Regions from separate parts of the Homo sapiens genome. Here region 2 is linked to region 1. The links come from fine-mapping of genetic effects on gene expression. Tissue or cell type: whole blood. Region 1 holds a variant in brackets; the other region holds the start of a gene. All regions are shown on one strand. Distances are from middle to middle.

Region 1 (2,500 bases):
TACCCTGTCACCAGACTGGAGTGCAGTGGCACAATTACAGCTCACTGCAGCCTCCAAGTCCTGGGCTCAAGTGATCCTCTTGCCTCAGCCTCCTGAGTAGCCGAGACTACAGGTGCACACCACCACACCCGGCTAATTAAAAAAAATTTTTTTAGAGACAGGGTCCTGCTATGTTGCCTAAGCTGGTCTTGAACTTGGCCTCAAGTGATCCTCCTGCCTTGGCTTCCCAAAGTGCTGGGATTACAGGCATGAGCCACTGTGCCCGGCATCTCTTTTGCTTCTGACAGTGCTTCAGATGGTGGCTGTTCCACCAGCCTGGGTCCCTAAGTGATTTCAATGGTCAGAGTCCCCTGCTCATCCACAAAGGGCATGTAGCAGAAGTGAGAAGCAGTAAGTAGCAGAAGCAGAAGTGTGTGTTAAGCCACTGAGATATTGGGGTTTTTACTGCAGCATAATCTAGACTATTCTGATACATACCTTTTAGTGTGTCTAGAATAATTAAATTAAAAAATTAAATGAGGAAAATATCCATAGCTTTCACGCAAGTTCTAAGATAAGACAAGAGAAGGGGGCTTAAGAGAGTAGAAGGCTGCATTTCCATTGCTGTTTCCTAAAGACAAAAAAAAAGACATTTCCTAGCTCCCTTTTACCCCTTGGGTGGCAGCAGCAATGAGTTCAGGAAGACTTTGGGCTGGGGTGTCCCTGGTATTTCATTACACCTCTCTTGGAAACTCATTTAGCACCACTGTGCTTTCTCCTCAGCTTCAGGAAAAAAGCCCAGCAATCCCCAGGCATTAGACACCTGCAGGGCAAAACTTGGTTTGGCACATTGTTTGGGCTTCTAAGTCCCCCACCTCCCCAAAACTGCAGCAACATCAGCCAGAACAGATATGTAAGATCAGAGCAGACAGGATGTGAGGGAGTTCTTGCCTTAGGTGCCTGGCAAGAATGTGAACCTCAGCTCCTGGGAGCATGGGGCTGGATGGCTCTGTCACACAGTCTACAGCCCACTGACACTTCAAATGCCAGCTTCCTGCCTTCTTGCCTCCGGAGGAAGCATTCCTGGATTACCTTGCCTGGAAGGGAGGGGAGGAGGAGCTGCAGGTAATACCTGGATTTCTATGGTGCTTTTCTTCCTAAAGGTTCAAAAGACATCCCTTCTCTGATCTCCTGTGGCCTTCCCCAGAAATAGGGCAAGGAGAGGAAGACTCTCATTTCCCAGTCCAGGTAAAGAAATGAGGGTCCAGAGAGGTTAAGCAAATGGCCTGAGGTCATATAGCAGGACAAGAGTATGATTCTGGTGGGCAAGGGTCTATGTCTCCACACCCCATCTCTCCCCATCCACTACCCCAGACCTACCCTGCTGG[C/G]CAGGCTGGCTGGCCCCTGTATGTGGGCAGCAACCTTAGTACTCTCAGTAGCCTTTGCAGAGGGGTGAGCTGGGCCTTGAGTGTCCACTCAGCTTGTCCTGGGCCTGAGCAGAGAAGAGGAAGAGGAGGAACTGGGAGAGGCTAAGGTCAGCCCCCCCCACCCCCCCACAATCTCCCAACAGAGCAGTGATGACAGGTTGGCCTTGAGCCCCGTGGTCCCGCCACTGGGAGGTCAGGCCAGGAGGCTGCCAGAACACCGGGGCTGAAGAGGCTCCAGATAATGCAACTGGGGCAGGCTCTGTGGGTGGAAATGACATTTCTTGACTTTAAATAGCTCCATCTCCAGAGCCCCGGAGCCTCGGCAGGGCTATTAATTCCTGGACTCCCAGGGCTGCCTAGCCCTGTCATTCTGTTTGCACAAGTTGTGTAAGATCTCAGGCATTTTTCCTGCCACCCGTCTCCCCCACCTCCCTTCAGGTTTCCTGTGCGATTTCAACAAGGGGTTAGTTTATTTCCAGTTTCAGGCCTGGGATTCGAACTGACCACATACATATTTTGTCCTTCTTACAAGTGACACGGCTCAAGTCAACAGCAAACTCTTAAGGGTTTTCTTTGTAACCTGGTGTCTCTGTAATGAAAGGTAATGTGTATGTGAATGGACGGCAAAAAGAGAGGCCATCTCTATGCATGCATGTGTGTGTGTGTATCAAGTTAATTAATCAATTGATTAATCAAACCCCCAGATTATTTTTGAGTGCTTACTATGTGTCAGGCACTGGGCTAGCGCTGGGTACAAAGGGTAAACAAGAGTCCTAACTGATTAAAAAAAAAGAAAACTGTTACCACCCCCAGGGAAGGCCCCTGGTGGTGTCTCCTGGCCCAGCTGGGCATCCCTGACAATAGTTCCCAACATCTCTGCATCGTGCCCACACTTGCCAAGCCCCCGGTTATGTGCCATGCTGAGAATGATGCAGAGAAAAAGACAGGTAGGTGCAGGAGGTTCTAAATGCAGAAAATCAACAGGTCGTGGTGGCTGACTGGCTGGAGAAATAAGAATCAACGATTAGTCAATGACAAGTCCAGGGTGTTCAGCCTGAGGACACTTAGACTGTTGGACCTTTGAGGGCAGACAT
Region 2 (2,500 bases), 74 kb before region 1:
TCATTTCTAACAACAGCTTATGCTAAGGGTTCCCATGAGCCAGGCATGGTGCCCGGTGCTTTACATATGTTATGTCAGGCACTACTATTTTCTCCCTTCGCAGAGGTGGAGACTGAAGTTAAGACAGGCTAAATAATATACCAAAAGTCCCATAGCTGAAGGGCCAGAATCAGTCTGGAACCTAGGTTTGTTATGAACTCAATGCCCCCAAATGAAGCACTCTGCTATACTGCTTTGCAAACATGTTAACTGATGGGGCCTGATCAAGGGAAATGGGTATGCACTATGAAGAGTGAAGAGGGTGATCCGGGAATGAGGGAGTAAGGTTCATGATGCAAGCAGATCCTGGGATGAGGTTACAAGAGGAAATTTCCAGGGTGGGGTACAAAAATGATTGCAAAAAATTATTATCTTGACTGAGAACTGCATAATTTCACAATTTCACAGACGGAAGGAAACTCAAAGATCATCTAACCCAACCTCATCACAGTCATGATGAGAAACTGAGGTCCAGACTGAGGAGGGGACTTCTCACAGGTCCCTAAAGCACAGCAGTGACAGAGCTGGGACCACACACTGGATTGACTGGATTCTGGATTGATCCAGAATTCTCTGATGCCTCCAATTATTACTACTTCATATTAATCTCTATATCCTCCTTAGCACCAGAAAGGTGCTGGACGCTTGTAAGTCATGTGCTGATTGACACTGAAGGGCTGGGATCGCAGAGAGAGATGCCAGTGGGGGTGATTTTAGGATAAAGGCAGACGTGGAACGAGGGTCATACGGCTACAGGATAAAGATACTGAGGGTTGTGTACAAGGTGAGTGCGTGGAAAACTATTGGAGTAGGGCTTAGGAGTCGCCAGCAGAGTTTTGAGGGGAGTCACCGAGTTTGTGGGGAACACAAGGTAGAATCGGGGGGGTTACTGGGCCAGGAGGGTTACCCAGGTTTGGGGGTCACTAAGGAGGAGTGTGGGGATCTCAGGGTCATGTGAGTCACCGGATTAAAACTGAGGGAGTCACTGGTTGGTGGGTCTCTGAGAAGTGCTGGGGAAATTCCTGGGTTAGCAGCCAATGAATAATAACCAACGGTTACCTGGTGAGGTCTTGGGGTCAGTGGGTGGGGTGTGGGGTCACAAGGGTGGAGGCGGGCGCCGTCACGGGGTGAGGTTTGGGAGTCACGGGGGAGGAGCCGCAAGGCGGAAAAGAGGGGCAGGGACCCTGGGTGGGGGAGGGGGCCCGGCCGCGGTCCAGCGGCCAGGCCGCCCTGCTAGGGCCGGAGGGAGGTGGGCACGCCGGGCTCGGGACCTTCCCGGGGTCCTGCGCCCGCCCGGCCTCCCGCCCTGGGCATGGTTGGCCCACTCCTCCCGCAGCCACCAACCTGACAGCCCCCGAGGGCGACTCCGCCGACAGACCGCCATGCACCGGGCCCCGCCACCAGCGCCGGCCCCACAACCCGCCTGCGCCATAGCCCGCCCGCCCGCGCGCAGCTTGCCTCGCGCGATATCCAGGTTCCAGGGCCGCCGCACTTTCCTTTCCTCTTGGCGCGCCTCTACCGGGCCCCGGAACCCGTATAGAAAATACCGGGCACGGTCCACCCCGCCCCCCGCTTCGCCGCGGCAGCCATCCAACTTATCCTGGTTCCGGGGCTCCTGGAGCCCAGGCGGCCGGGATCTGAACCGAGCTCTTCGGAGCCCCGCCCCCACCAAGGCCGGGGTGACGCATGGCCAGCGAGGCTGAGCGCCCAGGGAAGGCGTGCTGACGTCACGACGCCCGGGTCAGGGCCTGGGCGCGGCTCGGAGCCGGGTCGTCGCTATAGCAATCGGGAACCGCTACCTGTCCATTCCAAGGATTCGGTCCAGCAGAAGCGTGAGGAGGTGGCGGAGGCCCCGAGGGCTTTGCGTCATCACTTCTGCGGCCTGCGGGCGAGAAGGTGCGCTTCGGGAGTAGCGCGGGAGGACAGGAGGCGCAGGTTGTGAGGGACGCAGGCCCTGGGGCTTCGGTCTCTGTCCTCCGAGCTCAGAGCCTCCAGGCTTCTTCCCGGCCGCGCGCTCAGCACTCACTGTCTTACGGTCCCGAAGCGCTTTAAGGTGCGCAGTCCGCAGGCCTTGCCTACTGATCTTCCAGCCACCCCTTGAAGGAAGCAGTTGCAGGTATTAAGAGCTCCTTATTGAAAAGGACGATGTAGAGGGGCGGTGAGGGACTCGCCTCCGCAGGGAGGGCGCCCTGGCGGTCTTCTCAGGTTCTCTCTCATTCCCGCGTCAGCTCCACCGTCAGGCTCGAAACCGACTACTCCCTTTTGTAGGCTTGCTTTGGGTTGAACATAAAAACCAAGCCCCTTTACTATTTCCCTGCTGGGAGGGGCTGCGATTGGGAAATTTTCAGAAACCTGAGGGAAAATTAAAAGGGAGCGAGCTTTCGGTAAAAAATCAAATTAAAAAGGAGGGGCGTTAGAGAAGGAACTGGTAAAGATTGCCTTTTAGGAGAGGAACTGGGTG

Evidence for each region. PIP is the estimated chance that this variant, and not a neighbour inherited with it, causes the effect.
Region 2: ZNF76 starts here. The variant in region 1 is fine-mapped to the expression of ZNF76 in whole blood (INTERVAL, PIP above 0.99).

Annotation. Positions count from the first base shown.
Region 1 is chr6:35,184,656-35,187,155 of GRCh38, reverse strand. No RefSeq gene overlaps it. Among named protein-coding and RNA genes, the nearest start is that of SCUBE3, 28 kb to the left of the region's middle. RefSeq lists silencers at 1,530-1,824, 2,219-2,500. The variant C/G (reference allele first, on the strand shown) is at 1,368.
Region 2 is chr6:35,258,725-35,261,224 of GRCh38, reverse strand. It overlaps ZNF76 (zinc finger protein 76), which reads right to left and starts at 1,490. Exons shown (of 14, transcript NM_003427.5): 1 at 1,384-1,490. It overlaps SCUBE3-AS1 (SCUBE3 antisense RNA 1), which reads left to right and starts at 1,770. Exons shown (of 4, transcript XR_001744102.2): 1 at 1,770-1,935. RefSeq lists silencers at 1,058-1,377, 1,388-1,507.